Linked DNA regions of Homo sapiens: region 2 is linked to region 1. The links come from fine-mapping of genetic effects on gene expression. Tissue or cell type: lymphoblastoid cells. Region 1 holds a variant in brackets; the other region holds the start of a gene. All regions are shown on one strand. Distances are from middle to middle.

Region 1 (6,034 bases):
ACAGCATCTAACCATGTCTGATACTACTGTGTCACAGCCTACAACGTGAGGCTGGGATATATGTATGTATATATGTATATGAATGTGTTGCATGTATGGTATACATTTATACCCCTTTTTAGTAACACAACTATATGTAGAAAGATGAGACTTTAAATTGAGACTTAGACTGTATTCTCCTGGTTGTTCAGTCATGTGTTGACAACCAGAAGGAAATGAAAGTGCATCTCTTCCCAGGTTCTCCAAATAGAGTCTTAGAAATTAGAAAATTTTGTTGCTAAAGAGTATAAGGAAAGAAAGATTGAGAAGTACAGCTTTGAGTTTTTAAAACTTAATCAGAGAAAGTTTTAAAAATTCCTAGGGAACTTTATAAGTAAAATTTTAAATAACTAATGGAGTAATAATTTTCATTGTTTTGAGTAAAGACGAATTTTGACAGATTAGTTTTGCTGGTAGAAATCATCACTATTAACTTCATTTATGATCTGGTCTTTCTTTATTAAATAAACTTAGAAAAAATTGAAAAGGAAAGATTTAATGTTGTCTCTTCTGTCCTTAGTAAGAATACCTATGCCAGTCAGGCATTTTAGGTGACCCTTTCCGCCACATTAGAAATGTCTCTTGGATGAGGCAAATCAGGTAAATAGTTGAAGCCTTATACTGTGGGGCATCTGCCATGCTGCTGGGTGACAAGTAAAGGAGCAGGTGCTAGGCAAGACCTCAGCCTCAAACATGTGTACACTCTGCTTGGAGATCTGAGATTCCCAGAGAGCAGCATAGTATAATAATCCAGGCTCCAGAGCTGGACATTCTGGGTTAAACCCTACTCTCCGCTGCCAACTCTGATCTTGGGCAAGTCATTTAACCTCTCTGCTTCCTAATGCTTATTTATAAAGTGGAGATAATTGTTTCTACTGATATAAGATATAAGTGAGTTAATATATCTAAAGTGTTTAGAATGGTATGTAACATATTCTGAACACTATTGTATTATTATCATCAACACTGGGATCACTTCTTTTTACATGCACCACTGTCCTTTTGTTTTGGATTCTTTTTCCAAGGCTATTTTTAAAACTTCTTACTAAAGTGTAATAACAAATGTTCGTATAACTTTAGTATAATACTGTGAATTTATTCAAATTGAATCACCTAGGGAATCAGTACTGAGATCAAGACACAGCGTATTATCACAGTACCCTTCTCCTCTTGTCCCCTTTTCCTACTTGGCTCACACCCAAAGGTAACCACTTAACCATTATCCTGTCTTGTAACAGTGTAGATTAGTTTTGTCAAGGCTGTGTATCTTTTTTTTAAAAACCTGGGTTTGCCTGAATAAATTATAAGTGTATATATAAGTGAGGCAGCTATACCTTTAAAAAAATCTTAATTTTCTTTTAGGTATATTGGATCCTTTTATATTAGTGTTTCTTGGTTTCTCTTTGGCCACACTTGAATATTTTCCAGAAGATCTGCTAAAGGCAATTTTTAACATCAAATTCTTAGCTAGATTGGATTCTCAACTTGAAAGTATGTATCTATCTTTTAATTTATTTAATTATCTGTTGTACTTTATATCCAAGTCTCAGGTCTATCTATACTGAAGAATTTTAATGTTAATAACTTTTTTCTGTTTCTAATAGTATTCATGCTTATTGTAGAAATTTGGAAAACACAGGAATAAAATAGAAAATAAAAAATTACCCATCTTACTAACAAGTAAAACTACCACTTTTAATGTTTTGGAGTATTTCTTTTTTGTCTTTCTCCTTCTCCTATGTGAATGATTATATATCTGTGTTTTTTTGTTTTGTTTTGAGACAGGGTCTCACTCTGTTGCCCAGGCTGGAGTGCAGTGGTGCAGTCATAGCTCACTGAAGCCTTGGACTCCAGGATCAAGTGATCCTCCCACCTCAGCCTTCCAAGTAGCTGGGACCACAGGCGTGTGTCACCATGCCCAGCTAATTTTTTTTTTTTAAGAGCTGGGATCTCACTGTATTGCCCAGGCTGGTCTCAAACTCTTGAGCTCAAGTGATTCTCCCTCCTTGGCCTCCCAGATGCTGCGATTATAGGTGTGAGCCCCCACACCCAGCCTGTATTTAATTTTAATTTGTTAAATTTTTTATTTTTATATTTTGAGACAGAGTTTTGCTATGTTGCCCAGGCTGGTCTCTAACTCCTGGCCTCAAGTGATCCTCTTGCCTTGGCCTCCCAAAGTGTTGGGATTACAGGCATGAGCCACTGTACCCAGTCCCTATAAGACTTATTTTATTTTACATTTCTTTCTTTTTCTTTTTCTTTTTTTTTTTGAGATGGAGTCTTGCTCTGTTTCCCAGGCTGGAGTGCAGTGGCTCAATCTTAGCTCACTGCAACCTCCACCTTCCCATTTCAAGTGATTGATCCTCCTGCTTCAGCCTCTCGAGTAGCGGGGATTATAAGTATGTGCCACCATGCCCGGCTAATTTTTCTGTTTTCAGTAGAGACGAGGTTTCACCATGTTGGCCAGGTTGGTGTTGAACTCCTGACCTCAAGTGATCTGCCCACCTTGGCCTCACAAAGTGGTAGGATTACAGGCATGAGCCCCCACACCTGGCCCCTATATGAATTTTAAAACAAAATTTGGATTATTTATATATTCACTTTTATATGCTGCCTTTTTCCATCTAACTATATTTTGAGCAATTTTCCATATTATTAAATATTTTTTGATGTCTTTTTTTATTGGCTACATAATATCCTGTTACATGGATATAATAAAATTTGTCACAGATTGTTTCCAATTCCTCATCATTGTAAGTAATGATTTGTTATACATGAATCATTGTTTCCTTAGGATAAAATCCTAAGTGTGGAATATTAGGTGAATGAAAAATCTTGGGAGTATTTTTTTTTTTTTTTTTTT[TTTG/G]AGACGGAGTTTTGCTCTTGTTGCCCAGGCTGGAGTGCAATGGCATGATCTTGGTTACCCAAAACCCCACCTTCTGGATTCAAGCGATTCTCCTGCCTTGGCCTCCTGAGTAGCTGGGATTACAGGCATGCACCACCATGCCTGGCTAATTTTGTACCTTTAGTATAGACGGGGTTTCTCCATGTTGGTCAGGCTGGTCTTGAACTCCCGACCTCAGGTGATCCGCCCACCTCAGCCTCCCAAAGTGTTGGGATTACAGGCATGAGCCACCGTGCCCTGCTGGGAGTATTTTTTAAATGTACTTTTAACGTTCATGATTAATGAGAACAGTGCAGGAGTTGGTCCTAATCATGTCACTGAATGTAATAATTTAAAAATATAAAGCATACATTTGTAAATTAGAAATGTAAACAGTTCTAAATACTGTTAGAATAAAAGCATCTACTAATAGTGGGGATAAATGAATGTGAAAAAAATGGGTTGTCTTTCCTAGGTCTCAGCTATCAAAATTCATTAGTATTTTATTAATTTCAGTTTTATCTCCATCTCGAAGTGCAAGAGTCCAGTTTCATCTTATGGAGTTAAATAGATCAGTCTGCTTGGAATGCCCTGAGTTTCAGATTCCATGGTTTCATGACCGCTTCTGTCAACAATATAATAAAGGTTTGAGTTTTCTTTTAGTCAGATAGCAAAGTTTGATTCTAAAGTAAATTATTAGGTAGTACATTGTTAATCTTGTTATACTTAAACATGACACGAGCCTTCCCAAGAGTGCCATGACCTGTTTAATATTTTATATGAGATATTGTAGGTGAAACATTATAAGAATTTCTTCATATTTGGGACATAACCCTCCTAGTTGAGAGCAAAGAACTTGTATTGAATTTAGTGTCATTATATAAGACACTACATTGAAGCTCTTATTGAAATTATTAATCTTTATTTTTCAGTTTGTAGAACTGGGATGATTTTCATTAAAAAACTGATTAAGTCCGGGCGCGGTGGCTCACACCTGTAATCCCAGCACTTTGGGAGGCTGAAAGGCGGGCAGATCACCTGAGGTCAGGAGTTCGAGACCAGCCTGACCAACATGGAGAAACCCCATCTCTAACAAAAATACAAAATTAGCTGGGCGTGGTGGCACATGCCTGTAATCCCAGCTACTTGGGAGGCTGAGGCAGGAGAATTGCTTGAACTGGGGAGGCAGAGGTTGCAGTGAGCTGAGATCGCGCCGTTGCATTCCAGCCTGGGCAACAAGAGCGAAAACTCCGTCTCAAAGGAAAAAAAAAAAGAAAAAAAAGATTAAGTAGACTAATTATTTATTTTTTTATAAAGGTATTGGTGGCATGGATGGAACACAACAGCAGATTTTTAAAATGTTAGCAGAGGTACTAGGAGGAATCAATTGTGTAAAAGCCTCGGTTCTTACGCCTTATTACCACAAAGTAGGTAAGTTATTGGGTAGGTTATTAGTTACTTTCAGAAAATCAAACTAATTTGAATAGAATCATCTTATCAGTTGGAATTTTTTAAAGTTTTTTGAATTTTTTTCAAGTTGTTATTATTATTAAAATTTTCAAACGGAGATAGAAAGAGCAATAGAATAAATCCTCAAGTTCCCGTGGCCCAGTGTTGATAACCAAGAGCGTTTTCTATTCTTTAGAAAAAAAAAAAAAAAAATTAAGGTCAGTCCTCCACCAATTCTAAGTAAAACCCAGATTCAGATTCACTGAACATTTCTGGATCTTCAAAAGATTCTGTCCTCTCCATTCAGTGTGTGAAAATAAGGGAAATGACTCTTTAATTTCTATTTCATTGTTTTAAGTTCATCTGAAAAACTAAGTTGGTCTATCAGCCTGGATAAAGATTTCCAAAGATACTGTGCTTGATGCTAACCTGATTAATCTTGTTTCTCAACTGGTCTAGTTGTAGAATGCATTCTGATTGAATTGTGGATCACATAAAGCTGGTGGACTAGCTTACGTTGATGGCAATATAAAATTTTCAAAGATATTGCCACATTCAAGTGGTGATCTTAAATGAAAAAGATAAAATTTCAAGATAATTAACATAAACTTTCTAAATTTAGGTTTAGAAAACCTCTGCATATACAGGATATTTAAAAGGATTATAAACTTGGTATAAACTAACAGTGTAAATGGTAGCCAAAAATCAAATACTATTTAAACTATATTGTTAATAATAACAAAAAAGTTGGTAATCCCATTGTATTCTATTTTTTAGACACCTTAATATATATATATATATTTTTTGCATGTTGTCCTTTTTAAGAGACAGTGACAATTAGGGTCTAGAAACAAAGGAGGACAGATAGTGAAGGATCTTGTCTAATCATGTCGTAGACAGAACTAGAGAGGACTAGGATTGCATGGATTTCAATCCTTGAGCAAGTTCTTCTGAACCTTGTTAACTTCTTCATCAGTGAAATGGGGATAATAATGCCTACTTGATAGGATTAACTGAGATATTGCATGTAAAGCATTTAACACTATCCTTGGAACATAGTAAGTGCTCAATGAATTTATTTTTATTTTAATTTTTTTATAGAGACAGGGTCTCACTATGTTGCTGGTCTCAAACTCCTGGGCTCAAGCGATCCTCCTGCCTCAGCTTAGCCTCCCAAAGTGTTGGGATTACAGGTGTGAGCCACTGTGCCCAGCCCAATAAATCTTACTTGAAAAAAAAAAAAAGGATGTTTAGTCTGAAAAATAGAAGTCTTATGGGGACCATAATGTTTTAAAATGTTTGAAGGATTGTTAAGTAGAAGAACTAGATATCTCTATCTCAAAGATGAACAAAATGGTAAAAATGAAAGGAAGCAGACTTTAACTTGGTATAATGAGAATTATTGACTGCTTTCTGAAGAAGTAATGTTGAGGCAGAGGCTGAGTATTCAGATGATAGATGTGTGTGATTTTTGCACTGGGCAGGAAGGTGAACTAGATAATCATTAATGCTCTCATCTTGTGCTATAAAACACAACTTTCCTTTGATTTTATGTTAATCAGGATTGAGTTGGGTATGAGTGACAAAAATCCATAAATTGGCTGGGCACAGTGGCTCATGCTCATACACATAGTCTCAGCACTTTGGGAGGCTGAGGTGGAA
Region 2 (4,949 bases), 200 kb before region 1:
CCACTTACCTTTAATCATGTTTGCAATAGGAATCCATTTCTCTTTTAAAGGATCATAGAACTCAGCCTCTTCTGCTGGAGCCCCTTTTCTGTAACCACCTAAAGCATAGACACAGCCACCCAAGGTGACTGCACAGTGGTAATACCTGGCATTGAGCATTGGCAAACCTTCTGTCCATTCATCACTTTCACTGTTATAGATCCACACTGTGTCAAGAGCTTCTATGTTATCCGTCCTGTAGCCCCCAGTTACATAAATGTTGGGTCCTAAACATGTAACACCATAGCTCTCCCTGGTATAATCTGGTATTTCTGCTCCCTGAATCCAAACATTTGTCAAAGGATCCCATATGTGAACCTCTGATAAAGGATGCCAGTAATAGCCTCCAATTATATACATTGTGGCTGTGGACCTCTGGGAAATCTCTTTATGCATGGGATTCAAGGCATTGTATATTAGGGAGCGGATCTTATTTTCGGTGAGCAGGCAGCTTCTTTGAAGGCCTAAGGCTGTTTTTAAGTACACTGGATCTATATCAATGTTGATATAGCTCAGTAGATTATAGAGGCATTCAATTCGATTTTCTACATCATGAGCAGTCCACTTAATAACTGGCTCTATGATAGCTTCTTCTTTCCAAACACTGAGATTCTTTCTGGACAAGATAAAGAGAAACTTTTCAAGGCTGATTTCCAGAAATTCTTCTTGTTGCCACACTTCCTTAAACTTTGAACATAGAATTCTTCGAGATTCCTTCTCTAGTTCTGGACACACATGAAATTCTGCAAAGGAGTGCATTCCAATACAATTATCAATATCCAAGTGCCTTACCAAAAACCGCTCACAAGCCTTCTTTACTGAAAGGAACTGTAGCAGATCCGCTGCCTCAAGCAGGCTTTGAACATTTCTTTTAGTTATTTCAATTTGGGAAGTGTATGCATAATTTACAAGGCCTTCCAGAATATCATGGTGGATGCCAGAGAGTTTTATTTTATTTTTAAATTTTTCTTTCATGTCAGCTGTGAACATTGCCTTAAAATAATTGCTGCAAGCAGCTAAAACGGCTCGGTGACAATGGAAAATTATGCCTGAAGGACACTGAAGAGTAATATCAGTAAATAATCCATCCAAGTAAAATGTTCTGAATGCATCCAGAAAATCCACTGGATGTGTTGAATCCTTGAAAAGATAAATATAATCTTCTTGTCCTTTTAGAGCCATGGCTGCAATAAATATGAAATAACAAATGTGTTTTCAATGTTGCACATTCTCTCAAATAATCAACGCTAAATAACTTGACTATCATCGGATATACTCCAAAACTGGACTAAGTTCAGCATCTAAATAATAAATGCAAAATGTGGATGGACTGTTTGATCATTTATATGGTGGTCAATTTAAATTCAGGGTAGCTCGGAGCTTGAAATGAGGCTCCTGGATTTTTCAGTAGTCCTTTTGAGAGTACTGATTTGCTATTCCATTCACCGCAATCTACCCTGGCCTGGCGTTCGGAGATGAGATCCCACACTAGGCAAGGCAAGTGTCCGAGGGTCACCCCACTCGAGGCCGGACCTCAGCTGTCTCGGCTCGGCCCCAATTCAACCTTTTCCCCAAGCTCGTCTCCCTTTCAAATCACATCGAAATGCCAAGAAAGGGATGATGGAAATATAAATGGACAAGAAGAGGTCTCGGAAAAGGGAAATCCCGAGCCCTTTCGCTTAAGGAAGGAGAGAAAGGAAGGCAGCTCGGCGCAGCCCTTGCAGCCCTCGCCCCCTCCCCCGCGCCCGCCGCAGGGGTTTCCGCGCGCCCCGCGCCTGGGCCCCGGCCCACGTTCCCGCCCGGAGACCGCCCCGCCCCGGGGCCAGGAGCGGGGCTGGACTCGAGGGCGCCGCGTGCCGCCCGCGGGCCCGGTGCCCGCGTCCCTCTGCCCGGCGCTCCGCGCAGGTGTGGGAAGGACGCCGCAGGCAGCCCCAGCGCAACGCGTTCGGCCCGGCCCGGCGCCCGCGCGGCCATTGTCTGCGCTCCTCTCCCGCGCGGCCTCGCTGCCCGCGCCCGGCCCCGCTGCCCGCGCCCGGCCCCGCTCCCCGCGCCCGGCCCCGCTCGCTCCCAGCAGGCCGGCCTCGGGCTGCGGGTCCACACCGCACCTACCTCCCGCCGGGGCTCGGGACGCGGCGCTGGCCCGCGGGCTAGTAGCGAGCGGGAGCGGGGACGCCTCCGGCCCCTCTGACCATCTTTGGAAGAGGCGCTCGGAAGCCGCCAGCTAGTGCCGCTCCACCCCACAAGCAGCTCCTATTTTGGTGTCCCGGCGGCTCCCCCGCCTCCACCCGAACAGCCCCCCGCACGGTCTGGGCGCGAGGCCACTCGCGGGAACTCCCCCGTCGCCGGGCCGTGCGGCGAGCGGGGCGGGGCGTGCAGGCGTGAGCACGGCTCGGCCCCTCCCCAGCGGCGCCCCCCACAGCAGGTGGGACTGCTTCCCCAGGAGACAGCGCGCGCCGCCGCCTTCCCCTTCCTTGGCTCGCTCTCTGTCCCGCGCGCTCTCTCACACCCGGTCGAGCGTCTTCTCTTAGATAAACTCTGAGTCCTGAATTATTAATAACACCATATATGAGTGTGTGTGTGTGTGTGTGTGTGTGCGCGCGCGCGCGTGTGCATGTGTGTACACTCCCCTCCCTCAGTAGGCTTCGCCAGCCCAGACTCAATCGTGAGGACAGAGAAGGGGGAAAGAGTGGAGAGAATGGGGCACAACTAAAGGTCAGGGATTGGAGGCGCCGTTGAAATGCCAGAAGTAGCCGGCCTTTCCCACAAACGCCATCCCACCCCCAGCAAAGCACTCAGGAGGGCGCCTTGGTGCTGGTGAGCACATCAGGGGTTAAGCTGAAGCTTTGAGAGAAACTTTGGGCAGCCGGGGCCAAGGCGAAGTCCAGGCGAAGTCCAGTCGTGCTAAGATTCAGGTTATTGTATTTAGAGCATAGCAGCTGGAAGGAGCAGCCTTTCTGGTGACGGCCACTCTAGTCACAGATGTCTATGTGGTACACAAAGTTCATTTTCTTGTTCCAACTAAAGCCAGTATCAAATATTTTTGTATATCATTCATTCATTCATTCGCAAGATTTTATTAAGTGCTTCTAGTGCCTGATAGGGATAGACACTAGTAGTGATAAGAGTGTTGACAGATGGTCCCTAGCTCACAGGGACCTTCACCACCACCAGAGGACCATGTGTTTCCCAGAGTATGGTCTCAGAAACGCAATATACATGAATGGCCAGATAGTATGTGACAACAGAACTCTGAACCACATAAGAAGCCCAGGAAGCCAGACCACAACCTTGGTAGCAGCTGAACCAGAACAGTCAGGAAGTAGTCAACGACTGGCAATTTCCCTATTTTTTTTCTTTTTTGAGACAGGGTCTTGCTATGTTGCCCAGCCTGGAATGTAGTCGCACGATCTTAGCTCACTGCAGCCTCGATCTCCTGGTCTCAAGAGATCCTCTGCCTCAACCTCCCAAGTACCTACGACTACAGATGTGCAATTTTTGAAAAATTTTAAATATTTTTTCATGACAGGGTCTCACTATGTTGCCCAGGCTGGTCTCAAACTCCTGGACTCAAGCGATCTTCCTGCCTGGGACTTCCAAAGTGCAACTTCCCTATTTTTACCCCTAGTTCCACCTCTGCACCAACCAGAGAAAGCCAAATATGTTCCGCAAACCCATCACATAAAATACCCCCGCTTCTAGTAGCCCACCTGCAGCTTTCCCATGCCAACAACTTCCAATCAGAGCATACCGGGGGCTTTTCTTCACTTCTATAAAGCTTTCCCACTCGTCTGCCCCACCTTTGAGCCTCTGACAAAGTGATGGTGAGTGGGACTCCCTTCTACAGCAAACTCTGAATAAATAGCATCTGTTGGTTCTCCTGTGGGTGGGTTTTAGTTTAATTCCACAAGTCAGATCATCTTAATTGAATTATGTAAGATGCTGGTTATGCAGCCCCCACAACTACCACACCCCACGCACAGACGTCTGCGGGGTGGAGACCTAGGGATCTGCATTCTAATCAAGGGCAGCAGGTGATTCTTATGGACAAATAAGAGAATGTGTTGGACCCAAAAGGAAGAAGGATGAAAGTTTAACATCCCAACATCTGGTAAACAGTATAGTTAGAAAAGGAAAGCATATGAGATTTAGTTTCGGGCTTAAGGCTCATCTCTGCCACTTATCCAACATATAGCCTCTCACAAATTACTAAACTTCTCTGATCCTTCGTCTTCAGATCTGTAAAACACAGACAACATGGATACTTTCTCAACCTAACCTAAGGTTATTGGAAAGACAAATTAATAATGAAGCACTTAGGACTTGATATATAAATGTTAGCTACTATAATGAAAGAATATTTACACTTAATTCTGCATCACAACCTTAATTTGGAAATTAGCATCTTCTTAACATTTCTTCAGAAATTATGAACTTCATAGTTAATAGTAATTATAGCTTGCCCTTCATAACTGATAGTGATGCTGTTGTCACTGTTGCCATTCAAGGACACAATTGTGACTGATTGAAGGAGACTTCTCTCCATTTTTGTCACTGAAGTGTAGAGATGGCTGTTTTTGCAGCTATAATTACTGTTTGCCAAGTTTGATGTATAAAAAAATATAGGCTCCATCTAACTTGGAGTAAGGGCTTCTGGAATCATAACTACATGTAATAATAAATGATTCATGAATAATAGAATTCACTATATTCTCATTTATGCAGTTATTTCAGATGGCTGCATGAACCAACTAAAACTCTTGCTTTCATTTCGTGATGTTCCCTGGTTGTGAATTACTACTTAAAAGTGTATATCAGTGTATATTACATATTAGACTATTATACTGCTTCACTTTGCTAAGAGAAGAGCAGGTCCTGAAGGGTATTGCCTGGCATAGTTCCTCTTTACCATG

Alleles and levels. Positions count from the first base shown, and alleles are read on the strand shown. Sizes are in standard deviations (SD) of each study's normalised expression.
For the expression in lymphoblastoid cells of the gene that starts at base 2,404 in region 2, allele G in region 1 goes with a lower level than allele TTTG (large effect, 1.5 SD a copy in GEUVADIS).

What was found. PIP is the estimated chance that this variant, and not a neighbour inherited with it, causes the effect.
Region 2: it holds the start of KLHL23, and the variant in region 1 is fine-mapped to the expression of KLHL23 in lymphoblastoid cells (GEUVADIS, PIP 0.91).

The regions. Positions count from the first base shown.
Region 1 is chr2:169,535,547-169,541,580 of GRCh38, reverse strand. FASTKD1 (FAST kinase domains 1) reads left to right here. Exons shown (of 15, transcript NM_024622.6): 10 at 1,402-1,530; 11 at 3,440-3,568; 12 at 4,241-4,354. Among named protein-coding and RNA genes, the nearest start is that of KLHL41, 29 kb to the right of the region's middle. RefSeq lists a silencer at 3,993-4,141. The variant TTTG/G (reference allele first, on the strand shown) is at 2,903.
Region 2 is chr2:169,731,287-169,736,235 of GRCh38, reverse strand. It overlaps KLHL23 (kelch like family member 23), which reads right to left and starts at 2,404. Exons shown (of 4, transcript NM_144711.6): 1 at 2,149-2,404; 2 at 9-1,223. The coding sequence starts at 1,221. All of the region lies in intron 3 of PHOSPHO2-KLHL23 (PHOSPHO2-KLHL23 readthrough), which reads right to left. RefSeq lists silencers at 1,714-1,893, 2,004-2,073, 2,094-2,533.